4 separate regions of the Homo sapiens genome follow, and all the other regions are reported to be linked to region 1. Evidence: microRNA targets listed by miRTarBase, many of them from high-throughput screens and not tested one by one. Region 1 holds a microRNA gene; each other region holds the end of a gene's coding sequence.
What was found. Region 1 holds the annotated microRNA hsa-miR-3909 (UGUCCUCUAGGGCCUGCAGUCU, at 2,902-2,923, opposite strand). A microRNA usually pairs through its seed, bases 2 to 8, with sites in the 3' UTR of a target mRNA and lowers its output. Matches are read on the target gene's strand: a 7mer-m8 pairs with bases 2 to 8, a 7mer-A1 pairs with bases 2 to 7 and ends in A, and an 8mer does both.

Region 2: the mRNA of CSTPP1 is a reported target of hsa-miR-3909. Seed matches in the 3' UTR shown: 7mer-A1 at 980-986.
Region 3: the mRNA of TNFRSF1B is a reported target of hsa-miR-3909. Seed matches in the 3' UTR shown: 7mer-A1 at 4,018-4,024.
Region 4: the mRNA of FAHD2A is a reported target of hsa-miR-3909. Seed matches in the 3' UTR shown: 7mer-A1 at 4,690-4,696, 8mer at 3,571-3,578, 7mer-A1 at 2,618-2,624 and 7mer-A1 at 2,425-2,431.

What each region holds. Positions count from the first base shown.
Region 1 is chr22:35,331,519-35,338,632 of GRCh38, reverse strand. MIR3909 (microRNA 3909) reads right to left here and starts at 2,993; the gene lies at 2,875-2,993. It overlaps TOM1 (target of myb1 membrane trafficking protein), which reads right to left. Exons shown (of 15, transcript NM_005488.3): 9 at 5,619-5,652; 10 at 5,136-5,229; 11 at 4,185-4,305. It overlaps MIR6069 (microRNA 6069), which reads left to right and starts at 1,834; the gene lies at 1,834-1,912. RefSeq lists an enhancer at 909-1,818.
Region 2 is chr11:47,161,100-47,168,213 of GRCh38, forward strand. CSTPP1 (centriolar satellite-associated tubulin polyglutamylase complex regulator 1) reads left to right here. Exons shown (of 9, transcript NM_024113.5): 8 at 28-91; 9 at 365-1,148. The coding sequence ends at 539. It overlaps ARFGAP2 (ARF GTPase activating protein 2), which reads right to left. Exons shown (of 16, transcript NM_032389.6): 11 at 7,024-7,114; 12 at 6,810-6,944; 13 at 5,661-5,787; 14 at 5,407-5,500; 15 at 5,169-5,287; 16 at 3,202-4,403. The coding sequence ends at 4,383. Among named protein-coding and RNA genes, the nearest start is that of ARFGAP2, 12 kb to the right of the region's middle. RefSeq lists silencers at 1-253, 4-170.
Region 3 is chr1:12,205,933-12,213,032 of GRCh38, reverse strand. It overlaps TNFRSF1B (TNF receptor superfamily member 1B), which reads right to left. Exons shown (of 10, transcript NM_001066.3): 10 at 3,813-6,293. The coding sequence ends at 6,013. Among named protein-coding and RNA genes, the nearest start is that of MIR4632, 18 kb to the right of the region's middle. RefSeq lists a silencer at 2,475-2,554 and an enhancer at 5,543-6,043.
Region 4 is chr2:95,411,633-95,418,746 of GRCh38, reverse strand. FAHD2A (fumarylacetoacetate hydrolase domain containing 2A) reads right to left here. Exons shown (of 8, transcript NM_016044.3): 6 at 6,205-6,313; 7 at 5,983-6,070; 8 at 2,131-5,852. The coding sequence ends at 5,790. Among named protein-coding and RNA genes, the nearest start is that of FAHD2A, 12 kb to the right of the region's middle. RefSeq lists enhancers at 2,438-2,938, 2,939-3,439.

The sequences.
Region 1 (7,114 bases):
ATTGACGGCTCCCATCCTCCAGGCCTGCCTGGAAATGGTAAAAAGGGTCTCATTTCCTGCCTCTGGAAATTAGGATCTGACAAGTGACCTACATGACAGACAGCAGCAAAGGCTGGAGAGGTTAGGGAGGGTGTTGCTGGCCAAAGACTGAGACCAAGACCACCAATGGCTATGACCAGGATTGGCCAAACTCAGGAGACTGATAAATAGCTCCAGTGCCCGTAGGCTCATGGAGAATTCCCAGCAGACCCTTTCTTGAGCAGATCTTGTTTCCTATTTTATAGACTGTGGTTGTGTATGAGGTCGTATTTGAATGGGGGATTCCATTCTGCTGCTGAAAACACATCTATAAACTGCTGGGTGAGGTGCCATCTTGTCTTGCACTGGCTCACCAGCACAAAGATGACTCTGCCCCCACCTTGTCTCAGCAGCATGGGAGGTGGCTTGGTTACAGCTCTTCTAAATGTCCTCTGGGGGGTGCCAGCCAGCTAGGCAGGGTGGGGAGGCAGGAACTGGGAGGGCACGCAAGGCTGATGGGCTGGGAGCGGCAGAGGCTGACCCCACAGTTGCTGGGCAGATGAGGAGAGGCAAGGAAGGGTATGTTGTGTGTGAGGTTAAGTCTCCTGGGGAGCAAGAGAATAACCTGAGTGAGAGGAGAAGCTGGCTAAGGAGGAGAGGCGGCTATGGTGTCTTTCCCAGCTGCCGCAGTGGGGGTGCCCAGGGCAGGTGTTGGGGACCCAGCCCTGTTGCAGGGAAAGAGCCCTGTTATTCTCGCCCTGAACTGCCGGCAGACAGGACTTCAGCACTGGCTCAGTGCAGCTTTGAGGCAAAGAAGTAAGCCACAGAATTCTGGTCACAAAGGGAAAGGCCTGCGATTCCTGTTAGGAACAAGGCCACCTGACACGCTAGTGAAGCGGGGCTGGTCTAACTGTAGGCTTCAGGAACTGGGACTGCATCACATTTAACTCTTGCAATACCAGCTTGCTTTCTGAGGAATGGAGTAGGCTGGCACTGAAAGGGGCTTCTTGAATATGACCCCCAGTTCCCACGCAGTCATTTTGAAGAGTGCTGCTGTCTGTTCCTTCCCACCAGGGGCAGAGTTTGCTGGTGGAGTGTGACCACTAGCTGGGGCATTCCCTGGTTACACGGCTCCCATCCATGGCAAGTGGGCCAGTGACTACGGCAGGGCCCTGCTGGAGCCAACCTTAAAGCCAGTGGCGGGGGAGGTGGGGCGTCAGGTTGCTGACTTCTGACCCAGAGAAGGCCTGCTAATTGAGGGTCTGGAGGTGCTTGTTGCTGTCTCTAAGACATGCTTGGCGCATTGTGGGCAAGGCTGAAGAAGCCATGCCCAGCCCCAGAACACGCAGAAACCCATGATTTCCCTTCACTCAAAACAACTATCTGGGCCAGGTGCAGTGGCTGAAATCCCAGCACTTTGGGAGGCCAAGGCGCGCGGATCACGAGGTCAGGAGATCGAGACCATGCTGGCTAACATGGTGAAACCCCGTCTCTACTAAAAATACAAAAAATTAGCCAGGTGTGGTGGTGGGCGCCTGTAGTCCCCAGCTACTCGGGAGGCTGAGGCAGGAGAATGGCGTGAACCCAGGAGGTGGAGCTTGCACTCTGCAAGCGCCACTGCACTCCAGCCTGAGAGACAGAGCGAGACTCCGGCTCAAAAAAAAAAAAAAAAGAACTATCTGCCCTTCCTAAGCTTAGCTCCTCGCCACCCCTGCCCACACATGGCCCTGAAGCCCAGCTGTCCCTGAAGGCCATGCCTGTGGTGGTGGAGGGCCAAGCACTTCCCTGGAGGAAGCCCGCACCTCCTGCACTGGGTGGTGACCCCTGGGCTAGGGCCTGCTGCCCCCTGCCCAGTGCAGGAGGGTGGAGGGTCACTCCTTAGGTGGTCCCAGTGGGGCTGGTGGGCAGGGGCTGCACCTGGGCCACTGGGGTGACACTTGTCTAAGTGCTCCTTGTAGAGAAGGCCTCTGTGTACAGCAGCACTGACGAAGATGCGGACAAAGCGGGGGAAGGACACCCCTGCCTTTGTGAAGGCCTAGCCGAGGCGTCTCTGCTGTGGCTCGCCCAGAAGCCCTGCTACTCCTTGGCATTGAGTGGATAGGACTGGCTGCAGGAAGGCTGTGACGGTGCCAGCTGTGGTCAAGGCTGGAGCAGAAACAGCGGCTGATAAGGAGCTGGTTTCCCTGCCAGCCAGGGCAGAGCTGGTTGCAGGCTGGTGTGAAGTGGGGAGCCAGGCAGGTACAGGGAGGAGCGGGCTGGACACCAAGCTGGCAGAAAAGGCCAGTCAGGTGACCAGAGCTGGAAGATCCACCAGAAGCATTTAAGGGGGCCAGCCAGGCAGGAGAACAAAGGGAAGACGAAATGGATGCTCAGGTCCACGCCTGACCTTGCTGGATGTTTTCTGCCAGGGTGGAAACCAAGCCCTGGGGAGGGCCTGCAGGAGAACCAATGGCCTGAGAAGGTGCATGATGTCATTTCAGCTGTGCTCAGCTGAAGGCAGTTTCAAAGATGAAAATCTGATAAGAAAAAAGATCCTTCCTGTGCTCCCTCCTGCTCATGTTAGAATAAAATCAACTGCCTCTCTGTAGCCCAGTGGGCCCCACCACCCTCTCAGCATCCTGCCCCCTTCCCTGTGTGAAGAGCATCTTTCCCAGCTGCTGTGCGGGAGCCAGGGCACCTCTCTCCCGCCCTGCCTCTGAGACTTTGCACATGCTGTTCCTAGTGCCTGAAATGGCCTTCCTATCACCCAGCACCTGGTCCAGCTCTGAGTACCCTCCGCAGAGTTGCATGCTCCCTCCTCTGTGTCCACAGAGCCTGGTGCCCCCTCCAGGACAGCACTTAGCCCTTCACAGCGGTGGTCCTGGTGCATGTCACTCTCCCATGAGACTGCAGGCCCTAGAGGACAAGTTCCTTGTGTGCTTTTCCCTGTCCCCCGGAGCCTGCTCCCCAGAGGAAGGACAGCGCAACAGCATACCTCAGCCAGGCTGGTGACCAGGGCAGGCGCCAGGGTTCTCCAGTATGGCCAGCAGTGTTGCCTGCTGGGGCCTCTGTGGATGGGCGTGTCTGGCTGCAAGTCCCATCACACTCATTAGCTTGCCTTTGCAGGGTAGCCTCGGCAGCACCCCTAACTCCATGGCAACAGCTGCTGGTCCCAGGGTACCTGGGCTTAAAAGTACAGACTCTGCCCAGACTAAAGAAAGATACAGCTAACAGCCAGGGCAGCCCTAAGGACCTAGCAGGCTACAGCCTGGACCTGGATTTGTGGGTGTGGAGAGGTTATCCCTGGGCTCTCTGGAGGCCCATTGACAAAGTTCCAAAAGACACCAGAATGACCTCTAAGGAGCTGAGTGGGGTCAGTGGGAAGATCCCATAATCTAGAACTTTCCTTAGCTATAAGAATCCTGGCTGCCCACAGCTCAGCCCTGGGGGTCACAGTGGGCAAAAGGCTGAAGAAAACATCAAGCAGACTGTTCCTCTTACAAGCCTGTACGGGGCCAGTTCTCCCGCAGGTCCCGGCAAGGGGTCAGACCCTGGTGGACACACTCAGGCCACGTGCCTATGCTGCTGAAAGTACCCCCTGAAAATGCACGGTGCACAGGGAAGGGCAGAGCCCCAGCTCTGGGGCAAGGCTGACAGAACCTGCTTAATCTTCTCTGGAAATTAACGGTGGCTATGGAACAACAGAAAAAGACTTGACTTGAAAGTCCCTGAGGATTTATCAGGAAACTTCCCTGCTCCTGGAGGGCTTACTATGCGGTACACAGTGCAGGGAGGGGGGCGGGGGGTGGAGACACTGTGTTTTGGAACCAGACAGCCCTAGGCTCCTAACCTAGTGCTGCCAAATATTAGCTCCTTGACCTGGGGCAAATGAGCCTGCCCCTCTCTGTGCCTCAGTTTCCCCCTCTGATCAGACTATGTAAGATTCTGGCATACAGTGGGTCATTAGGCTCCCCCTCCCCCACCCAGCATGGCCTGTGGGGAGCGCAGTCTGTCAACTGACCACAGGGCTCCCAGGCCATGCTGGACTGACTTAGGGGATACTAAGGGCGTGCTTACTAAGCAGGGTCCGTGTGCCCTTCCTCATGGTGTGCCACCATAAAACCGGGTTCCAGAACCCCGAGAGCCACCCGAACTGCAGGGGACCAGGGCAGGGCCAGGCCACTCACTCTTTCCGTTGGTCAGCCAGTGAGCTGCCCCGTGTCAGCGCAAACATGTCAAACTCATCTTCCAGTCGACCAGAGGCCTCCAGAGACTGCAGGCCAGCTCTCACACTGCTGGAGCCCAGGTCTGCAGGGACAGAAAGGCCACGTGAAAGACCCATCCACAAGCTTGTGTGTGAGCTGCTGCTGAGCTACCTGCTGCCAGACCCAGGGCTTGGTGCTGGGGAAGTGGCACGTGTGGGTGGGGGAATGCGCGAGGCAGGCCACCTGCTGCTGGCTGTGGGGCCTTGGGCAAGCGGCTTCCTCTTCCCAGCTTTAGTTTACTCACCCCTCTTGGGGCTGCTGTGAGCGTTAGAGAACAGTCAAAACGCTATCCATTGATTCTGCTGGGGAAGTGGCTGGGCAGGAGGACAGTAATCAGATGGGTAGTCGATTTTTTCAAAAAGTATAGCATTAGTGATGCAAAATGGGGTGCTAATGATTTCCTAGGGCTTGGCATGAAGCAGACAGTAAATTATATTAAAACCTATCACAGTGATAACAGTGACAATGGCCAACTACTCAGCCAGAGTGCAACCTGGGCCTGGCATGGTCTAAGCGCTTCTCATACACGAGCTCCCTACTCCTGTTAAAGAGGAGGAAAGAGAGGCTCAGGAGGTTTAAGGAACTTGCCCAAGCTCACGCAGATGATTGAAGCCATGGAGAATTCAGTGTAGAGGGCCAATCCTAGGATGGTAGGATTTCTGAGATCCAAGGCGGCTCAGGACTTGTGGGGCTGCCAGGGGCAGTGACCCCGAGTGCCCCACCTTGCAGCAAGATTCAGCCTGGGACCCCAGCAAGGTGGGGTCCAGACTGACACTCTGCTGTGGGTATATAACAAGGGCACCCCGAAAATCTGCAGGGGTGCCCACAGTACCATAATGTACCCTCAGCTGGAGCCCTCCAAACCACACTTACTCATTCCTGCCAGCTGGGATGAGAGGTTGCCGGTGGCTGCTGGGTCAGGGCCCATGTCGATCAGGTCAGCTGCCGGCTCGGCCTCACTTGGGGCCTGGTGGGAAGGGAGATGCCCTGATCATCCCCGCTGTCTGCAGCTTCGTTCCTTTCTGCCCCAAGCACTGTGGCTTGCAGGCTTTGCCCAGGGATCTGTCACCAGGGCCCCAGGAGCTAGGACTGGGCATCAGGGAATTTCCTTCCTCCCCTCTGGCTCCAGCTCAACTGGACTCCCTGGGAGGTTGGGGAGACCCTGGGGCATCAGGTGGTGGCACAGCCTTATTTACCTTAAAGGGACAGGGACATAAAAAGTTAGAAGGGGATTTCTCTATGGGCCTGGATAAGACAGCACCACCCTGTCCAGTTTACTAGGGGAGGGAGGTGAGAATGGCACTCCTTCTTCCCATGAACAGGGCCTGATCTAGTCACAGAAAAGAAGACTTTTACCTTGGTGGTCTGGCCTGTTCGGAACCGTTCAAACCTACAAGACAGAAAAGACACGAGTTATGGAGACAGACTGAGACAGGCCCCCACACACGGCCAGGCAGAGCTTTTCAAACTGTGGGTCTCAACATCAACACGGTGGGTTATGATCAGGGTGATGACACGTCTGGTGTGCCCTGGACAGATCCAGTTCATGCCTGCTGTCCCTGGGTAACTAGCAGTGCTCCTCTTTCCCTTGCAAAAGTGTCCCAATTTGGATGATCAATTATAAGGCAACCTTAGTCATGAGTAGCATGAAACAAATAAACAGGAATAGGTTAGAACAGCAAAGAAAATAGGAATGCATGGCACGCAGTAAAGGTAAGGACTGTCTTATGAAACTTGTTTCAATTACATATTTGTGTGTGTGTATGTGTGTGTGTGTGTGTGTGTTAGTGCTCTCTTCAGTGCTGTAAGAAAGATACATGTATCTCTAATCTTGTTTTATGGAGCTACTTAGGGGCCGGTGTGATAGATCGAGAAGACTTTAGTGTGGGGTCTGTTCAAGTCGTGGCCTTGTCACTTATCACATGACCTCGGGTAAATTATGTTCCTTCTGAACTTTAGTCTGCTTGTCTAGTATCTGTAGGCACCTGCCTCCCTGAAGTGCTGAAGCCCAAATTAGGACATGGGTATAAGTGACTGCGAGCTTGAAAGCACAGTCAGATATTAAGCCTAATGACTGTGGATATCTGAGGGTACCAGCTGCTACCAGATGGGGCCCCTCAGTCACCTCACAGCCCATACCCCAAAATGGCAGGGAAGAGGCCTTTCATTCCACTGGGCCAACGAGCAGGAGAAGCTAGGCAGACGTGACCTGCAGGGTACCCCCCACTTTCCACTGATTTAGAATCAATCAGTGAGTGTCTTTTGATGGAGAAAGACACAAAAAATGAACAAGGGGCTGGAGGAGGCTGGAATAACTCATGTCAGTTATCAGACACCCTGGACTGCTAAGCGCTTTACAGACACTGTTTCATGGACTCTCACTTATGCCACAAGCCTCATTTTACAGATACAGAGGAGGTGTGATGGGCACACAATTTCTGCAGACCCAGCAATCCTTCTCCTTCTCTTTCCTTTTTTTTTTTGAGATGGAGTCTTGCTCTGTCGCCTAGGCTGGAGTGCAGTGGTGCGATCTCGGCTCATTGCAACCTCTGCCTCCTGGGTTCAAGCAATTCTCCTGCCTCAGCCTCCCAAGTAAGCTGGGATTACAGGCACCCACCACCACCTCCGGCTAATTTTTTTGTATTTTTTAGTAGAGACGGGGTTTCACCATGTTGGCCTGGCTGGTTGCAAACTCCTGGCCTCAAGTGATCCTCCCGGCTCAGCCTCCCAAAGTGCTAGGATTACAGGTGTGAGCCACTGCGCCCAGCCCTTCTCCTTCTTTTGTAATAGCACCTAAGTACTCTTTAGAGGAACTGCTCCTCCCCCATTTCACATCATCCCGGTGGGGCTGC
Region 2 (7,114 bases), not on the chromosome of region 1:
ACTACTGTGCCCCCAATGATCTCCTAGGAGCTTTGCCTGACAAGGGGGATCTGATGCACGACCCAGCAATGGATGAAGAGCTGGAACGGCTGTAAGTGTCAAGTGGGAGGATACTGCCCCCTTGTGGGGGCCAGACGGGTCGGACACGGCTGTGCCCCATCTGGGGCCAACACCACTTGTCTGTAACATCCCACATCTGCCAGGGAAGGGTCTGGGGGCCAGTGGAGGCCTGAGGTGTCCCTCCCTCTGAGTCCTTTGGGGGCTGCAGCCCAGGGGTTTACCCTAGTGTTAAGAGTGGGCATGGAGGCCCTGCTCTCTGTACAGGAGGCCTCTCGCTGCCCTCCAGGCTTCTTCCCTTCTTCAGGCTGGCCCAGGTCCCAGGCCTGGTCAACTCGGTCACAGCCAGTCCAGAGGCCAGTTGCCTGCCTTCCCGGACCCCTCCCCGGGTTGGCTCTCCCTGGAGACCTCTCCATCATTCCCGAAAAGTGGATGGAGAGAGTGATGGCTCCACTGAAGAGACAGACGAGTCGGAGACTTGAGGAGTCCAAAGGGTCCTGCCCACAGCGCCCTGTACCTGCTCCCACCCAGCCCTTGGTGTGCCCACCCAGCCTCCTCTCCAGCACCTTGCTGTGCTGCCCTCTGCTGCTGACAAGGTGAATAACAGCCCCAAGACCAGCCAGAGGGGCTCTGATGATCAGCCCAGCCAGTGGCCCCGGAAGGTGAATGGCCTGCTCTCCCTGGCCCTATCAGCCTGTGAACTTCACTTAGGCCCCAAGCTGACAGACTGTGCTGAGGCCACCTTGTCACGCCGTAGCCTGTTAGTCCTCCTAACCTCTTAAGAGCAGTCTCTTCTGAGCCAGCCTCTGCGGGTCCCCCAATAAGGTTCATCTCCTCACAGCAACTCCATTAAGGGGGAGAACCCGAATAGCCACGCAGGGCCTTGCACCATCAAGGGTGACACCTGCGACGCAAGTACCAGGAGGACATAACCGCTGTGGCCTGTTGGAGAACAGCCAGTAGCCTTGGTAATATGAAGGGTGGGCCAGAAGATGATTTCACTTGCAAAAACTGCTTCAAGTCTTGACCCCTTTGTGTCTAATAGCTAAACAAACATGTGAAACGAATAAAAAGTCCCTCATGTCTGGTAACTGGTGAGTCTAAAGCTCCTAGGCTGAGGGGAGAAGGGAGAGGGGGAGTTTGGGTTTTCGGTGCTTTTCTGGTAGGACTAGGAGGTAGGCCAGTGGCCCACTCAGACCTGGGGACCTGCCTCAGACAACGAGCAGAGGGGCCTAGCTTCGCACAAGAGCAACCTTCCAGAGGAAAAGTGCTCACAGCTGGAACGGCCTTCAGGAAACAGGTTCAGAGGGTTCAAGGCCAGGTTCCCATAACTTTAAAGACCGTGGCCATAAAGGGTTAATACTGCACAGCCTTCCAGCCAGGGTTTCAGTCAACATTTGCCAAGCACCTGCTTGGGGTTAGAACAGTGGGATGCAGCTGTGAAAGACAGACAGACACAGCCTGGGGCAGACACATCCCAGCCAAGACTGGAGGCAGGTAAGGACGAGTGTCTTCAACTTCTTTGGATTGAGGGCTGAAGGGGCGGGGTCCCCCAGAAAGCAAAACCCACCCAGAAGCCCAAGCAGAACAGGACTGCCTCCTCTGAAGGTGGATGTCACCACTACTAGGCATACACATTTCCTTGGGCTCATCCCTACCCAGAACGGATCATTACAGGAACTGCCTCCCAAACCCCTGCAGAGCTGAGGCCAAGACTAGGCATTCCAGCCCCGAAGCTGCTCCAGGATGCAGTGGCTCATTGCCTGTAATCCCAGCACTTTGGGAGGCCAAGGTGGGCCAACTGCTTGAGCCCAGGAGTTCAGGACCACCCTGGGAAACATAGTAGGACCCTATCTCTACAAAATAACCTTAGCCAGGCATGGTAGCTTGCACCTGTAGTCCCAGCTACTTGGGAGACCCGAGGTAGATCACTTGAACCCAGGAGGTTGAGGCTGCAGTGAGCCATGATCGTGCCACTGCACTCCCGTCTGAGTGACTGACAGAATGAGACCATCTTAAAAAAAAAAAAAAAAAAAAGCTCAGGCTGCGTGATGAGCTCTGTAGGCCCACAATGATGCACAGCCCATAAGAGACATGGTTCTCAAATCCTGGTGTCCTCAGAATCACAGGAAAGCCTACTGACGATGCAAATTACCAAGCTCCAGAGAGTCTAACTCTATCAACTTGGGATGGAGTCCAGAAATTCCAGATGATCCCAAAGCTGAATGAGTCCCAAACCTACACTCTGCAAATCCCTGGCTTACAGCCCCCTGGCTCCCTCTGCCCATCCTTTCTAATCATCCACTTCCCAGACCAGTGGTCTGTAACTACCGTGAGGACTCCTAAGGTGGCACAGAGATGTTTCAGAAGCCCCCAAGAGAAAGGGGTGGCCAAGCTAAGGATTTACACACAAACACACACCTTTTCTTCCCTAAATTTAAAGGGTCCCATTAACGTCTAAGAGTATGTGTGTGTATGTATATATATGTAATTTTTTCTTTTTTGAGACAGGGTCTCACTTTATCACCCAAGCTGGGGTGCAGTGGCGCGATCTAGTCTCACTGCAACCTCTGCCTCCCGGGTTCAAGTGACTTCTGCTTCAGCCTCCTGAGTAGCTAGGATTACAGGCATGCACCACACCGCCCCCACCCCGCTAATTTTGTATTTTTAGTAGAAATGGGGTCTCACCATGTTGGCCAGGCTGGTTTCAAACTCCTAGCCTCAAGTGATCCACCCGCCTCAGCCTCCCAAAGTGCTGGGATGACAGCCATGAGCCACTGTACCCGGCGTTAAATATTTCTTAAACTCCACTGAAACCCATCCCCAGTCAAGCCTACTGCCGTGACAAGGGGCAGGACTGCTGAGGTTGCTCGCTCGCCCTCAGCCAGCGAGTTAAAGGGCCAACTAATGCCAGCTCTTTCCTCTGCGTGCCACAGGGTGGTGAGGTCGAAGCTGCACCGGACCTCACGGCAGCACAGAGCCAAGGAGCCAGGGGCCTTTGGCTTTCAGAGAAGAGAGAAGCAGGAGGCCCTGGAGAGAGTGTCCTCAGCTTCGGTACCGACGCCCTACCATTACCGGTGGGAGCCCAGAGAGTGAGGCCAGGGGCCGGCACTGGGCAGGGAGGCAGGATCCAGAGGACACTGCTTCACTCAGACCAACAGGGAGCCAGGCCCTGCAGGGGCTTTATTTTGACACCACTTTGTTTCAATACAAACAGTCCAGAAAGAAAGTCAAGTCCCTCTGGGGGAGGGGCAAGGGGAAGAGTGGTCTGTGTTGCTTGGGAGCCCAACCTACAACCCAAAGGTGGGGGCTGGGCTGAGACTGCCGGTGCGGCAGGGGAAGATGGCACCAAGAATGACAGTGCTTGGCTCAGCTGCCAGAGGGTGAGGCCCACAGCTCTCACTGGCGGGTGCTGTCCAGGCCAAGCCCAGAATGATGCAGAGGAAGGAGCTCAGCCCCAGGAGCCTGCCTCTGCCTCTCACATCCTCTGCTTCCCTGGCCAGCATCAAGCTCACAGCATCCAGAGTCGAATCACAGCAGACAAGACCCTCCATGGCCACCAACCCGGGGAAGAAGGGATAAAGAATGTCACAGAGGGTCCTGCATTCCACAGCAGATGGTACAGAGGGACCCTGAGACACCCTGAAACAATCTTCCAAGTGCTTACTGTAGAAAGGGGTGGTGAGACGGGAGAACCCAAGGGTCTCCGGTCTGATCCCAAATGAAACCTTTAGGTACCAGGTAAAGTTTCCAGCCCTTGGTAACGCCCAGACAAAGGTCCTTCCCCTCTCCTGGCACCCAGAAGAGGCCACTGGCAGCAGCAGCAGCAGCAAGTCCGCAGCCTCTTTCCCCATGGGACGGGTCTACAGTGAACTCCTTCCAGGCCTCCCCCTGGTTCCAGAGGATGGGGACCCAAGGCCTCGAACTAGAAGAACCCTAGAGCCAGCAAAAAAAGCCTTCTACCTTCCGCTTTCCCTACCTGGGGAAAGTCTGGACCCAGAATAAGCCATCGTGGGGGAACCCCCTTTCCCAGTATGGCAGGATAAGTGAGCAGCAGCTGTGGGGGCAGGACAGAAGGACAAGAGTCTAACACACGGAGGGTGGTGTGAGAGGGAATAAAGGGCTCAGTCCACAGGCAGAGGACAAGGGCTGGTACTGACCATTCCCCTCACAGGAGTGAGCGCCTCAAAGGCCACCCCACACACACACCACACATACGAAGTAACAAATCCTCCCCAGCTTCCACAAGGCAAAGCATCCCCAGCCTGGGAACTGTGGAGTTCTTGTTGCCGTCACCATCGTAAGCCTGAGTCACAGAGCTCGGATCAGTAGGAACCGTAGCGATCCTGGGGGCGAGGGGGGAGAAAAAAAAAAAAAAAGTCAGAGGCTCTAAGCTGCAGCAGCTTCCCAGCAAACACACTGCCTGCCCCAGCACCCCACAGCAAGACTGGGGAGGCAGGGGCTGGACAGCCCGGTGAGGCAGGAGTCCACGGTGAGAGCTGGGGCAGCGGCCACTCGGGCACCCGACAACAGGGAAGCCCTGCCTGGCCTCACAGAAGCTGGGAAGAGAAGAGAAAGAGCGGTACAGGTGACAAGGCCAGGGAAGATCATGGCAGACACAGAGGCATCTTGGAGAGGCCCGGCCCTGGCACGGAGCTGAAAGGAAGGAAGCTGCCCTCCAAGAAAATGCCTCTCTCTAGACTCTTGCTTTTTCGTTTGTGGTTTTTTTTTTGAGACAAGAGTTTCACTCCTGTCACCCAGACTGGAGTGCAGTGGCATGATCTCAGCTCACTACAACCTCCAGGTTCAAGCGATTCTCCTGCCTCAGCATCCCGAGTAGCGGGATTACAGGTGCACGCCATCATGCCCAGCTAATTTTGTATTTTTAGTAGAGACGGGGTTTTGCCATGTTGGTCAGGCTGGTCTCAAACTCCTGACCTCAAGTGATCCACCCATCTCAGCCTCCCAGTGCTGGGATTACAGGCGTGAGCCACCACACCCGGCCGAAAATGCTCTTAAGGCTCAGAGGGGCTGAGCAGTAGCAGTGTCTCTATGTGGTGGCGAAGGGCAAACCTCCCAGCACTCCTCATTAGGCCCCACTTCAGCCTCACCTGCAAGGAATTCATCACACCATTGGCCAGCACAGCCATTTTCCCAGCCACAGACTTGACACCCTGCTTAAACTGGGCAATGTCCGCTGTAGGCAGCACGTTCCCCAGAGATACACTTCCTGTAAAACAAGAGCAGGGTGACCCAGAGCCCAGCAAGAAGCCCTTCCCAGTCACAGCAGGGCCCTCCCGCCCTGCTCCCAGGCCTCACTTGGTGCCTGCCACCCCACCAGGGCCCTACCTGCTCCGTGAGCTCCATCCATGTCCCCAAAGAGGTCTGAAGAGCTGATGGCACTGCTGCCTGAGAGCTGCTGCAGCCGAGACCTGGCCTCATACTGTGGTGAGGAAAAGGCCAGGCCTGGGGATCTTGGGGCTGATGACCCAAGGACTCACACAGGCCAGGCCCTCCTGGTGCTAAAGCCCAAAGCAGCGGCAGGGAGAAAGCTCATGCTTCTGCCTGCTGCCTCGGACCTCAGGGCAGACAGCCCCACTTACCTCTGCATCCACCTCCCGCCCAAAGAACATGTCAGATGAGATGGCTTTGGCTCCTGCGAATTTCTGACGCGCCTCACTAGACTCGAGGCCTGAGCTCCGGCTCTCCACTTCCCTCCGGTTTGTGGCTCTGAGGGGAAGATGTGGAATATCTCGGACTCCTCCCATTATCATCAGGGGAGGCAGAGTACAGAGGCCAAACAGAGCACCAGTGGCCTTTTGGTGATGGGTTACCAGGTCCCATTCTGTCTGTGGCTCTGTGGCTCTGGGCCCCTCTCCCCTGGTGAGGAGTCACCCTTCTCCACATTGAGGCCAAGGCCCAGAGAGCTTAGGAACCTGCACTAGGCAGGGTGGAAATACAGCCTGCAGTGGCCTAGGCTCCTGCCCAAAAGCACACAGCTTCGTCAGCATTCAGGAGGCCACACAACTGCTGCTACCCTAATCCTAGTGACAACTTGCCTAGTACTACAATGAGCATATGTGTCGGTCTGCCTGGCTTTATACCTACTCTTGTCATAACTATGAATAGCAAACTGCCCCCTTTACTCTCAAAAGCATCCTGGTGTGGAAAGGGAGATGGTTGCTCTCATCTCACGCTGAGTATGTGGACACTGGGCCAGGTATTTCCGGAGACCCTATGAAGTAGTTACGTTCCCATTTTATACGGGGATAACTCACAGATATTATGTCAACTAAACAGATCCCAGATTAAGATGGAGTAGGGTTTTAAAAAATAAGAAGGGGGCTGGAGACATAAAACCCCTGAAAGGAGGTCAGGACTGAAGCATACAATCAGGCTCCTCCGGCCAGAGAAATGGACCCCAAGCAAAAGAAGCTGCCAGGCCCTCTATGATGACAAAGCACAACTCAAACCGAAGCCTGACTGCTGCCCTGTCTAATGAGGCAGGCACCAGCCACTGGTGGCTATTTACGTTTATCAGAAATTAAACTACATCAGAAATTGTTGCTCAGTTGCACCAACCACATTTTAAGGGCTCATAGCCACATAGTAGTGGCTACCATATTAAACAACACAGAGAACATTCCCATCAACACAGAAAGTTCTTCTAGACAGTGCTGCCTTAGAATTCTCTACCTTCAGCTTGTTTAAAAAAAAAAAAGAAAGAAAAAAGAAAAAACAGCCCACTCTACCTTTCTGAAATAGGCCGGATGCTTGAGATGGTCACTTCTGGCTCCTTCTCCTCTACCCTGTCCATACCCCAGGCAGCATCTGTATCCCAGCGGGAGCCAAAGCTTTCCCCTAAGGAAAAGGGATTGTCCTTGTACCTAGGGAGACAGTAGAGTGGCTCAGAGAAGCCTGATGAGGAACACAGCAGCCAAGTTTACAGCTAGAAAACAGCCTTACTTTGGGGGTCCAGAGGCGAAAGTACCAACATCGTCAAACAAGTCCAGCTGCGAGCGAGAGGATTTTGCACTCACTGGGGTTTCCTGCTCAA
Region 3 (7,100 bases), not on the chromosome of region 1:
CCTCAGCCCTGCAAAGTGCTGGGATTACAGGTGTGAGCCACTGCACCCAGCCTGTAGATCACATTTTGTTTATCCATTCCACCTTTTGGACACCTAGGTTGTTTCCACCTTTTGGCTATTATGAACAGGGAGCACTGCTGTACAAATATCTGTTTGAGACTCTGTTTTCAGTTCTTTAGGGTACACACCCAGAAGCGGAGTTGCTGGATCAGATGGTAATTCTATGTTCCATGTTTTGAGTCGCTGTCACACTGTATCCCATAGCAGTTGGACCACTGTGCACTCTCCTCAGCGACGCACAAGGTTTTCCATCTCTCCACATTTTCACCAACACTTACTAATTTCTGGGTTTTTGATAGTAGTTGTCCTAATGGGTGTGAGGTTGTTTCACAAATGGGAGGAACCTCAGGGTGTCTATATGCAAACAGGAAAGATCCAGGAGCCAGAGAAATTGATGCTGAAGGAAAGAGACAGGAGACTCACTGAAGCAATGTCCTTGAGCCAGGAGAGATGCTAAGATCCCGTGCAGGGGAGGCGCTGTCCTCAGACCCAGTCACGGCAAAGGCCAGGGTTGTGGGCACAGATGCAGGGTGAGAGGGCAGATGTGGTGGGGCAAGCATGAAGCATTCTCTTGTGTTTTATTTTCTCGGTGAAATAGACAGCAAGGTAACCAACTGAAGGTAAGGGTGGGGTGAGGACAGAGGCTTGGGGATAAAGGAGAACACATGAAATAGTCCATCTAGAAGAGTGGGGTAAGGTGTGGTGGCTCATCCCTATAATCCCAGCACTTTGGGAAGCCAAGGTGGGAGGATCACTTGAGCCCAGGAGTTTCAGGCTGCATTGAGCTGTGATTGCGCTACTGCCCTCCAGCCTGGGTCACAGAGTGGTACTCAGTCTCAAACAAAAACCTCAATTAATCCTTTTATTTAAAAGATAAAATAGGCCAGGCGCAGTGGCTCACACCTGTAATCCCAACACTCTGGGAGGCTGAGGTGGGTGCATCACCTGTCAGGAGTTTAAGACCAGCCTGGCCAACATGGCGAAACCCCTTCTCTACCAAAAATACAAAAATTAGCTGGGCGTGGTGGTGTCACCTATAATCCCAGCTACTCGGGAGGCTGAGGCAGGAGAATCGCTTGAACCCGGGAGGCAGAGCTTGCAGTGAGCCGAGATCGCACCACTGCACTCCAGCCTGGGTGACAGAGCGAGACTCCATCTCAAAAAATAAATAAATAAATAAATAAAATTAAAAGATAAATAGAAAGAGTGGGAGACTGAGTGAATAGGAGCTGGTAGGCTGCATAACCAATGGTTGTCTTTGCCCCTGCAAAGACATTGATGTCTGAATTCCTGAAACCTGGCCAAGATGCTAAGACGAGGAGAGTGTCCTGGATTTTCTGGGTGGTCCGTTGTAATTACAGGTGTCCCTACACTTGGGAGGCAAAGGGAGATCTGACTTCTGAAGAGATTCCGTTGCTATCTCTGAAGATGGACGAAGGGGCCATAAGTCAAGGAATGCAGGTACCGCTGGAAGCTGAAGGCAAGGAATCAGATTCTCCCCTAAAGCCTCCAAGAACAAATTCCCCATTTGAGCCTAGCAGGCCTGGCAACACCTTGCTTTTATACTTCTGGCTCCCAGAGCTGTAGGAGAATGAAATTGTATTGTTTTAAGCCACTGAGTTTGTGTGGTTTGTTATAGCAACAACAGGAACTAATATATCGGGGAGGGGACCTGTTGTCACTGCTGGGCAGCACCAAGGACCCCCATAGAATTTATTCTTTTTTTCCATCCCCCAGGCTGGAGTGCAGTGGCAAGATCTCAGCTCACAACAACCTCCGCCTCCTGGGCTCAAGCAATCCTCCCACTTCAACCTCATGGGTAGCTGGGATTCCAGGTACGTGCCACCGCACCCAGCTAGTTTCTGTATTTTTCTGTGGAGATGAGGTTTCACCATGTTGCCCCAGGCTGGTCTTGAACTCCTGAGCTCAAGCAGTCTGCCCACCTCAGCCTCCCAAAGTGCTGGGATTACAGGCATAAGCCACTGTGCCCAGCCAAGTCTAATGATCATGAAATGAAAACGCGACCAGCCAGCATGGTGGAAGGCCATCATCCTGCCCCAGCCAGGTGCAGACGTGCAGGTGTGGCACAGGCAGAGAGCTGGGTTCAACCAGAGAGAGAACAACAAACCAGGAGAAAGTGCCGTGGGTGCGTACAAGGGAGAAAACGTAACCAACAGCTGCAGGTGCCACTGAGGGAGAAAGACAGGAGGAAGTAGGGGTGGGGGGAAGTGGGATGCTTGAAATTGAGATTAGCGTGCAGTTATCAGTAATGCCAGGCTCTAAGGCACTGGCATGGGCACACCCCGAAGGCCACATCCGCCTCCTGCCCATTCTTTCATGTCCTGTGCACAGCTGTTTTCACACTTCAACAGCACAGGTGAGTGGTTGTTGCAGAAACTGTAAGGCCTGCCAAGTGTAAAATATTGATTCTGGTCAGGCGCAATGGCTCACACCTGTAATCCCAGCAGTTCAGGAGGCCCAGGCCGGTGGATCACTTGAGCCCAGGAGTTCGAGACCAGCCTGGGCAACACAGGGAAACCCAAAAAATAAAAATAAAAAAATTTAAAATTTAGCTCGGCATAGTGGTCCATGCCTGTAGTCCTAGCTGCTCAAGAGGCTGCGACTGGAGGTCAGGGCTGCAGTGAGCCACGATCACATTTCAGCTTGGGTAACAGAGTGAGACCTTGTCTCAAAAAATTAAAATAAATTTGCTCCCTGGCTCTTTATGGAATAAGTGTGGGGAGCCTTGGTCAAGGGTTGAGTGACTGAGACAGGCTGGAGGACAGGACCATGGAGGAGAGGAGGGCGAGAAGCCAGGAGGCGGGGCGTTCCATCAATCACAGATCCTATAATCACCAAGAATGAAAATGGTCCCACTGAGGGAGTCACAGGAGCTGGAGTGACGATGGTGACCCAGGGGGTCAGTGGAACCAATACACAGGCCAAGGTCTCTCTCCCCTCCAAGGCTTTCTTCTAATTAATTGATTTTATTTATTTATTTTATTTGGAGACAGACTCTTACTCTGTCACCCAGGCTGGAGTGCAGTGGCCCGATCTCAGCTCACTGCAACCTCTGTTGCCTTGATTCAAGCAATTCTCGTGCCTCGGCCTCCTGACTAGCTGGGATTATAGGTGCATACCGTCATGCCCAGCTAATTTTTTGTATTTTTGGTAGAGATGGGGTTTCACCATGCTGGCCAGGCTAAGGCCTTTAAACTCAGAACTCCTTTTGCCTGACAGTTCCCTGCAATCCTTTGTTCTGGAAAACTGCTGCTCATCCCTCAGGAGGAGGTCAGAGGTCATCTCCAGAACCCTGTTCTAACCTCCTACCTGGGCCCAGGGATGTCCTCTGGGCCCCCAAAACCCTGTACTGGTCTGAGTATCCCAGGGGCAACCACTCTCCCCGAGTGGGGTCCCCAGGAGGGCAGAGCCTGGCTGCCTAGGCTGCTAGGGATCTGCAGAGACCCCATCCCGGTCCTGAGAGCAGGCCCAGGAGACCTGGAGGATGAAGGCATGAGACCAGGGCACACTTGGAACCCAGCCAGCTGTGTGGTCCCGAGCAGGAAGTTCTCTTATGGTTCACAGGCTTGAGGGGGCGGCTGTAACAGGGGTCCCTCTGTGGTCCAGTCACAACAGGGGCCAGCCAGACTCCAGGGACCGTGACGCCATCTCCCCTTACACAGGGGTGGCAGACAAGTAGGAGCATGGACAAACCCAAGCCCAGACCCCAGGCAGAGCCAGGGGTCGACGTGTAAAACAAACAGGTTTATTGATAAGCAGGAATGCCGTCCAGCATACAGTGCAAACTTTCATTGTCTTGGGATCAACACACACACACAAGGGAACCAAGGCCCCACAGAGTCTCCAAATTCATCGCTTCCCGGCTCTGCCCTGTGATGCCAAGGAAGCCTGAGGTTCTCCCAGGACTGTCCACCAGGGGGCAGGTGCGCTCCATCATGTCCTCATGTGGGTCCAATGTGGGCAGAAACCTGGCCAGTCCCAGCAGTCTGACTTTTTTTTTCTTTAAGAGACAGGGTCTCACTCTGTTGCTCAGGCTGGAGTGTAGTGGCGCGATCATAGCTCGCTGCAGCCTCAAACTCCTGGGCTCCAGTGATCCTCCCCTCAGCCTCCTGAGTACAGGTGCACGTCACTGCAGCCAGCCAGTCTGACATCTTGATTCCAGGGTGGAAAACCCTTCTTGTCTCCATGGTAATGGCTGGGCTCTCCCACCCTCCAATAGTTCAGCTGCCAAGCTCAAGTCCAGTGGAATTTATCAACAATTTATCACCCTGCCCCTGCTCTGCTAGACAATTTCATGCCTTCTCCTTTATCCCCATGCTCCTGAGACTGAGCCTTTCCAGGAGCCCCTCAACCTGCTTCCTCCCAGAATCCGGGCAAGGCTACACTGGTTTCCCCTCTGCAGGGCCCTGGCCCTGGGAGGGGGAAGGCTGACTCTAATGGGGAGGAATCCCAGCTTCAGTGGCTTCAAGGCAGGCCATTCAACTTACCGACCTTGGCTACACACACCCACGACACGCAACACAGACGCAGACACAAGACTGGCACTTGGGATCACACTGGCCATGTACCAAAGTGGCAGGGCAGCCCGTTTGGGGCCCAGGAATTGAAGGTGGGGAGTGGGGAAGAGGAACCCACCCCTCTGGGGGAGGAGGAGGGTCTAGGCTGAGGTAGGAGTAGAGAGATGGCTACGAGGACTCAGTCATCTCTAGTTCCTGAAATTCCCTGAAAGGAGATGGTGTGGCCTAGGACAGCAAGGAAGGAGGCGCGGGGCTGCAGGCACACCGGAGTGAAGGCGGAGGGTGCAAATGGCAGGTGGGGGGTTGGATGTGGCTGGCAGAGTTTGGCTTTGTCGTTGGCTTGTTGGCCTGAGTGGTACTTACTTTTTTAAAAAATTGGCAGATTTCTAGTTAGAAGTGCGTTATCTTGCCCAGGCCACAGCACTGAATATGGTGGCCTGCCTGGGCCCTCTGGGCATCTGACTTTCACACCATGGTACAAAAGGACAAGTTGGCATTTGGAGGCGGTGCTTTTTTTTTTCTTTTGAGACAGACTCTCGCTCTGTCGCCCAGGCTGGAGTGCAGTGGCGTGATCTCGGCTCCCTGCAACCTCCGCTTCCCGGGTTCAAACGATTTCCCAGCCTCAGGCTTCTGAGTAGCTGGGACTATAGGTGCCCGCCACCACGCCCGGCTAATTTCTGTATTTTTAGTAGAGATGGGGTTTTACCATGTTGGCCAGGCTGGTCTCGAACTCCTAACCTCAGGTGATCCACCCGCCTCAGCCTCCCAAAGTGCTGGGATCATAGGCGTGAGCCACTGCACCTGGCCTGAGGTGATGCTTTCCAAGCCTCCTGAGCTAACTTGAAGGACCCCGTTCCCTACAGGGCTGCCACCTCCTCCCTGCACAGAGCCCCAGGACCATCCCGCAGTCTCAGCCTCAGGCTGAAGCACTGTCCTGTCTTCATGGGTGACTCAGGCAGCATCCCTCCTCTCCAGAAAGCCCCTCTGCAGAAAAGGATGCTGGGGTTTTCTGGAAGCCAGAGCTGGGGCAGAGCCCAGGGGGAGAAACAAACAAACAAACAAACAAACAAACAAAAAACCCAAGGGCTCCAGAAGCCAGGCTGGCAGGTGCAGCTGGGCGGGGCAGGTCACAGAGAGTCAGGGACTTGCCCCAGCATGCCCCGAACGTCCATGCCCAGCCAGCCTTCCGAGAGGGACACGCCATGGCAGCAGAGGCTTTCCACAACTCGCTGCCTCTGCTCTTGGCCTGCAGGTCAGAGGGAGGCTGCGGCTGTGGAGGGCACTAGAGGAACTTGGCCCAGAAAGAGCCTCAGAGTCCTAGTGGTGGGGGCCTGGAAGGACCAGGGCCCCTTCGCAGGGTCATCCTGCCAGGGCTCAGCCCACCTTGGCTACGACACAGCCCACACCGGCCTGGTTAACTGGGCTTCATCCCAGCATCAGGCACTCCAAGGGGCAGGGGCTTCTCTTCGGTGCTCCCCAGCAGGGTCTCTGGCGTCTCCAGCTGTGACCGAAAGGCACATTCCTCCTTGGAGAAGGGGACCTGCTCGTCCTTCGGGGACTCCGAGGGGCTGGAATCTGTGTCTCCCATTGTGGAGCTGGCTTGGGAGGAGCACTGTGAGCTGTGGTCAGAGCTGCTACAGACGTTCACGATGCAGGTGACATTGACCTGGGTCCCATGGCCACCAGGGGAAGAATCTGCTAAGCACAAGATGGGGTGGGGGTCAGTCCGGGGGTCCAGGAGTGGGGCCCAGGGACCCCTGCCCAAGATGCAGATTCAGACACATGGGAAAGAGCACTGGGCCAGGAGCCGAGACCAAGATTCTAGCCCAGCTCTGCTGTGTGACCTTGAGCAAGTCACTTAACCTGCATGTGCCTCATTTTCCCCTCTGCCGAATAAGAATAGCATCACTACCTACCCAGCCCCAATCACCCCAGAGATGGGAGGAGCCAATTATATAAAACAGATGTCTACTTGGGAGGCCAAGTTTGTAGGATCGCTTGAGCCCAGGAGTTCAAGACCAGACTGGGCAACATAGTGAGACCCTGTCTCTTCTGTCTTTTTTTTTTTTTTTTTTGAGACAGGGTCTCAAAAGAGTGCTGTGTCACTCCCTCAACTCACTGTGACCTCTGCCTCCCGGCCTCAAGTGATCCTCCCACATCAGCCTCCTGAATAGCTGGGACTACAGGCCACCGCACCCTGCTAATTTTTTGTAGAGACAGGGTTTCGCCAGGTTGCCTGGGTTGGTCTCGAACACCTGACCTCAAAGAATCTGCCTACCTCAGCCTCGCAAAGCGCTGAGATTACAGGTGTGAGCCACCGTGCTCAGCCTCCAACTTAACTCTTGATTCTACTCCCATCTCGCATCCAAAACCTCTCCTGCTCATCACAGTTCCCATTGCTGCCATCCACCCAGCTGCTTGGGCCCAGAGCCTCGGACCCATCTTTCTCTCATATCACACACCCATCCATCATTCCTGCCTTGTCTCCCTTCAAAAGATGAC
Region 4 (7,114 bases), not on the chromosome of region 1:
AGGTTTCATTCCACAGGTTTCTCCTTGTATGGTTCCCATGAAGGTCATCAATGCCAAGCTCGATGGCTTTTACTCATTCCCCATCTTTGTGAGTGTCCTGCAGTGTTTGTCATGAATGCCTTTTCCCTCCTTCCTGAAGCTCTCTACTAACCTCACATCCCGGTTACTGTGCACACCTGTGGCTCTTCCTGTCTTTCAGATTACTCCACGTATGCCCTCTTCTCTGACTTTTTCTTCATTCCCCATCTCCAATTCAAGGTTCATTTTTAATGTTGGGGCCTTGGTCACATTCTCTTCTTTCAATACACTATTCTCTGGCCTCCTCCCAACCTTCATGCATCAGTGCTCTCTTCTAAGTAGGGAACAGATATATCTCTCTGGCCTGTTTCCTGAGCTCAGGGCAAGTATTGCCACCAAACAGCCTCAAAAACAATATATCCCCATGTATCCCAAGTACAAGACATCCTCTTTCCTTACACACACACACACACACACAACCACCCCCAACCCCATACTACCATCTATCCATTTTCTATTTTGCCTGTATCTATGTCAGTCTTTGTGATACTGCTCAGAGACTTCTACAGGTACTTGTGGTACTTTGAATGTGGATAGGCCCCTGAAGGAGTAGGTGAGATTAATCCAGTGAATTGTGGCTTATTGCCATTATTGTGACCCAATCTTTAGATTCACCCTATTGAGGCCTAGAGAAGTTTGATCTACACTCGATTCTATCGTCTGAGATACTCAAAGCAGCACCAGAACAAGCATACATATGCAGACAACTTAGGGGTATTTGTTTTGTGGACTGCATATTTGTATACTCCCAAATGTATGTTGAAACCCTAACTACCAGTGGGGTGGTATTTGGAGATGGGGCCTTTGGGAGGCTATTGGGTCATGGGGATGGAGCCCTCATGATGGGATTAGTGCCCTTATAAGATAAAATATGAAACTGCTTGCTTCCTCTCATTCTCATTCTTTCTCTGTCTCTCTCTCTGCCATGTGATGACACAGCAAGAAGATGGCCACCTCCAAGCCAGGAAGAGGGCCCTCATCATGCTCCTGACCATGGTTGTTCCCTTCAGCAGCATGTGAAATAGACGTTTGTTGTTTAAGCCACCCAGTCTATAGTATTTTTGTTATAGAAGCCTGAACTGACTTGACAATTAGGTAGCTCCAGGCCTAGTTTTAGATCAAATGAGGCCGAAGGGCATCCTTGGATATCTTTTCTCTCATAGGTAAATATGTGATCTTTACATTAATTCTGCATTTTTTTTCCCAAAGCCTCTGGTAGAGAGCCTCCCAAATAGCCAGCTTCCTGTAAATGTAGCTGAATGGTGGAATTTGCCTGGCTGCTTCTCTTAGTCAGGAAGCCTGAAAAACTGGCACTAGAGGATCTGTAAATGGGAAGCTGCTGCAGCTTCCTGCAACTCAGCTCCCAGATCCTTCATTCCCTGCCTAGCCAGATAGCATCCTAAGGGTGATGTTTAGGATTCAGCATTAAGGTCAACTCAGGGATGAGCTGCTTTGAATCCTTCATTTCATTGATGGAGGCAGATGTTCTGAGACATTAAGGAACATCCCTATAGTCCCCCAAGGTCTTCTTATATGGCACCTGCCTTTATTTACTTTCTTTTTAGAAAAGATTGCATCATTCTTAGATGGCCATTCCTGGGATGGGCAGAGGGGGCACTCTGTGTGCCCCTTGCCTGCAGTGTGTTGGTGGGAGATACAGTCCCATGGCACATTTTCATCCTGTGACTTTCACCCACAGCTCTGTGGAAATGCTGCCTGGAAGAAAAGCATATCAGGGTACCTTTGGAGAGGTTGTCCTGGGTGGATCCTTAGGGTCTAGAGGTCTCAGCAGAGAGACGAGGGAAAGAAGGAGTGTTCAGGGGTAGTTATGTATTGGGAAATCCAAGCCTTTGTGTGGGTATCTCCTAGTTCATATGGAACCCAAGAATTCTCAACTATTCTCGAGGACTCTGCTTGGACCTTGTAAGGATCCGTGCCTTCCTGGATAGCTGAAACTCGGTGTCAGTCACATTTTCAACAGCTTTTATTGGGTACCCGCCTCTGCGTCTTGTATTGTCATAGCAGTTTACACACAGCAAGCCAGACCAGGAGTGAAGAATTCATGTCATTTGTTATTTTCTTTTATTTGTGAATATGTGTGGGGTTGGGAGACTGGGTGCTAGACATGAGCTGAGGTCCAGGCTAGGCACAGGGAGCTGACAGCTGCAGGACATGCTAATTGGTCTGGGAAGGCCTTTGGAATCTAGGGAATTGGCTTTCTGAGCTGAGGCGGGGTCCAGGCAAGGAGGCAACAGGCTGCAGGAATCACAAAGGGACCGGGGACCTCCATGTACCCAATATCTAGGTCTCATCAGTCGGAGAAACATTCTCAGCTCTTGGTGACCTTGTCCTCCCTCAACACGGTACTCACTGCATATGGACTCATTTGACAATTGCCACAAAGGCTTTGGCCTCAGAGGCACTTTAAGGATATAACAGTAGGAAAGGGAGGCTTGGGGAGCCAGAGAGTCACCCACACAAAGCCCCACACGTGTTCCTAGCAGAACCAGGATACACACCCAGGCTTCCTGAGGCCACATGTCCTCCCTGTGGCTGCCTGGTCATTCCCCTTCACCTAGCAGCTGTCTTGCTCCCATGTAGAACAGCAGGGCCCAGCGGCCACCTGCACCTCGCCATTTCCTCCAGCTCTGTGCTAGAAATGATGCAAGCAGGAAAATCATTTGCTTGTGGACCTACTATGTGTCAGGCACCTGCTGAACAGTAGCATTTGATGCTCTCGACGGCCTTAACAGGTCGGCACTGATCTGTTGATGCTGCAGTCGAGGAGCTTTAGCTTAGAGAGGTTAAATAGCATCCTCAAAGTCACCCAGGTCATGCTCTGCTTCTGGAGGGGCTGGGATGCAGCATGGGAGTGTGACCTCCTGCGCACGGACTGCACGGGCCGCCTCGCAGCCGGCATGGTGAGGTGAGATGAGTTGAGGTAAGCTCGCAGCTCCTTGGTGCCAGCCCTTCCACAACCAGAGCTGGGCGGCAGCAGGCTCTTCCCCAGCTTACCTGGGCAAGAGAGTGAGGACTGCACGGCTGGCGAGTGATACATGGAGAGTGTTGCCGCCTGCCTGACAGGCAGAAGATAAACAGCTCCCCGTTAAATCTCGCTTAATGCTGATATTTATAAATTTATTCAGCTTGTGTTTACCGAATCAAGAGAATGCCTAATAACATAACATGCTTCATCTCACATGTTCCTACTAATGAGAATGCAAGTATTGCTTTTTTTTTTTTTTTAACATTTCATTTGCTTTCCACTCACTCCACCCTGTTCTGTTGTTGTTGGCTTAGAGTTTAATCTGTTGCTAAACACTGGGAAGTCTGGGCTTCTCGGGTGTTAGTGAGGAGAGAGCCAAGGTGGGTCTGGGGCAGTGGCTGGACCAAGGCCTCCAAACTGTGCCCTGTCCTACATGCAGTGCTTGGTGGACATGGAGTTGGCATACCCAAAGGATGGGCCATACTGAGGGAAAATGAAAGTCCTGGTGTCCTCTGCTGTATTTTGGGGTGGCTTCGTGCATTGGGTCAGGGTTGCAGTATTTGGGGGCTTCGGGACAAAAAATTTAGAGTAGAGCAGTGTCCTTGGCTTTGGACAGACAGGAGGATGGACAGAATGACCAAGGAAACATAAGCAACATTTGTGGGGTGTGGTATAGCTGGGTGTGAGGATGAGTGTGTGAGAGGGGTGGAGGGCTCCGTCTCTACCTTTGTTTAATCTGCTTACTGAGTTATTGGTTTTGTTTTTTGTTTTTTTTTAAGAAAGCCTTTCCCTGGCTGCTTATCGCCCCAAGGTCAGCTGTGCTGGCTGCTGCAGGTTCAGTTCTGGGATACCCAGGGCAGTCTTCACCAGGCAGGAGGAGCCATCGGAGTGGGGCAGGGAGAGATGGCAAAGAGATCAGCAAAGCTCATGAGGGTGTTTGGAAATGCATTTGGCAAAGAAGTGATGGTGGAGTGAGATGAGATGGTCTGTGCTGGGCTTCCTTGGGTGGGGTGGGTGGGAGAGGGGAATGAGGGTGCCTGGCCTCAGAGGCCAGGTGGACAATGAGTCGAGTGGGGTTGGGGGGCACCAAGTAGAATTCTGGAGCAGGGAGGAGGAAGGCCGCGGAGAGGCTGTCCAGTGAGGCAGGACCAGGATGGGGGCACACAGGGGACGGGAGAATGGAGGGAGACTAAGTCTGATTCAGGAAAACAAAAACAGAATCTGGGACGAAGCAGTGGAGGAACTGAGACGGGGTGCAGGCCTTCCACAACCTTTCCTTCCCCATCCCACCACATCCTCTGTTTTCCCAGCTCCACATCTTCATACTCTATATCCACCCAGCACTAGATTTTCTTTTTGATGTCTTCTTTTTCTTCTCCTCTCCAACAGCTGTTCCAGTTCCTGCAGGCCACCGCCCAGGAAGAAGGGATCTTTGGTGAGTCCCAACCAGTCAGCCCAGGCTCCTGCAGGCAGTGGTGTTTGCTGGTGGCTGCTGCCCCCTGCCGGACAGTGACAACCCAACTCTAGGAAGGCGGGCTGCAGAGTAGTCTTCTGTCCAGTCGGAGATCTATCCCTCCCTGGGCTTCTTTAAACAAGAGGAGAGAAGCCTGTGCCCAGTGTCTCCCTGTCCTCCCTACCTAGAGCCTTCACTTCTCTCTTCTTTCCAGAGTGTGCAGACCCAAAGCTTGCCATCAGTGCTATCTGGACCTTCAGAGACCTAGGGGTGAGAGGAGCCAGTGTCACCATCTTCTGTCCCCCTGCTCCCACCCCAATAGAGTGGCTCAGGGAAACCCAGCTATGTTCCCATCACCCCACAGGGCTGGCCTGATGGTGCCTCATTAAGACCCTGGGATTTACTTGGTGTCTTCCAGCAATAGACGTGGTGATGGGTTGGAGAAGGTGGGATGGTTTCCTGCCTCTTGGTCTCCCAAATCACTGGCTCATCCTTCTAGGTGGGGTATTGGGGCTGCTTTGAGGCAGCATTTGCACTCAAACACTGAGGCCTAAGGGGTCAGAGGTCTCAAGGCAGGTTTCTGGGGGACAGGCCTGGCCCCTGGGCCATGTGGACACAGTCCCTGTGGTGAGTGCACTCACGGCCCATCTTCCATGGCCCAGGTTCTGCAGCAGACGCCGAGCCCTGCAGGCCCCAGGCTCCACCTGTCCCCTACTTTTGCCAGCCTGGACAATCAGGAAAAACTAGAACAGTTCATCCGGCAGTTCACTTGTAGCTAGAACTGTGAGAAGGAGCCTGTGCTGAGACTTCTGAGCCCCAGAACACAGCTGTGTCCTAGAGCCAGAAGATGGAGAGGAGGCTGCAAACCCTTAGCTATAAATATAATCATTGAGGCTTGATTGTCCCTTGCCATCTCTTGCTTTTTCCCTTCTTTGATGTGATAAACAAGGGGACGACACGAATTGTCTTTTCCCCAGCCCAGCAGCATCTTTTTGGCATATGTGTGTGTATTTGCTCTCTTCTTCCCCAGTCCCACAAAATGCCCCAACTTGTCCCATGAAACAAAGCCCAAAAGAAGACAAACAGCAGAAGCAAAGCTGCTGCTTTGACCTGACGAATTTATTGAAGAGAGCTCTGTCCTTCTCCCTTCTACCGAGAAGAGGCGGCTTGCAGGGCTGGCACCTGTCCACACCTGTCACTGGGCCTTTCCCTGGGCTAGGCTGAGTGGGAGCAGATGCCCTCATCCTATGTGCAGGGCCTGTGCAGGAGCCATCACACCACCTTGTTGATGATGACACCTAGTTCTTCAATCTCACACTGGACTTCATCCCCCTTCTGCAACAGAGCAGGCCATGACAGTGTCAGCCCTTCCGTCAGACACACATACACAAGCCTGTACTTCTCAAGTCTGAGGCAAGCCTGCCAGGCCTTTGGGGCCCTTGCTCTTTGCTTTTCGCTAACCTACCTTGAGAAAGACAGGAGGTTTCCTGAATACACCGACACCTGGGGGGGTCCCAGTTAGGATGACATCCCCTGGGTAAAAGGTAACAAACCTGGATCAAAGCAGAAGGACCCGGTGAGACCAGGGGCTGGCTGAGGTGGCCACAGCCAAAGATGGAGGGCTCAGGTCAGCCTCCACATGTGTGGCAGGTGAAGCGGGGCTGGCAGGACAGCCCCTGTCACTCACTGGGAGACCCAGGCTATCAGGTCCTCTGTCTTGAATACCATCTGGTTGGTGTTGCCGCTCTGGACCACTTCCCCATTCACTCGGCAGCAGATCTTTAAGTTGTGTGGATCTGAAATGCAAAGATGGTACCTTGGAGTTATCCCTTTTCCCCCTCAAACCCCCCAATATTTTACAAACACAACTGTAGGGGTGCTTCGTGACTTGGCAGGTGAAAGGGCTTCAAAGTGCCCACATTGACTCAGTGCTCTATGTTAGAACTTTCTGTATAGACATTGGCCTTCTCAGGCCTCCCCGCATCCCCACCAAGAGCACCAAGCAGTAGTAACAGGGATGGGTTGAGAGGATGTTTCAGACTCTGAAGGGGAAGAGAAAAATGGCTAGGGTTTTTGCCTTGAAAAAAATAAGGGCATCTGTCTACAGCATAGGATGACACCTGTAGATTGACTCAGCAGGGCCAAGCGTGGTGGCTCATGTCTGTAATCATAGCACTTTGGGAGGCCAAGGCAGGCGAGAACTGATTAAGCTCAGGAGTTCAAAATCAGCCTGGGTAACTTAGTGAGTGCTTGTCTCTACAAAAAATAATAAAAACATTAGTCAGGCGTGGTGGTGCGTGCCTGTAGTCCCAGCTACTCAGGAGGCTGAGGCGGGAGAACTGCTTGAACTCAGGAGGTTGAGGCTTCAGTGAGCTGGGATTGGGCCACTGCACTCCAGCCTGGGTGACACAGTAAGACCATGGCAAAAAAAAGACTCAGCATCTATAAAGCAGTGAGGCAATGGTTCTAGCCGGGACAGAGAAGCCTCGTGTACTGGATGCTGGCAGGGGATGGATTACTGTAAGAACATCCTGGCTAACCAGCACTTTTTACTGTTGGTGGTGGTCCTAGTGTTCTACCCCCCTTAAGTAGAGCAG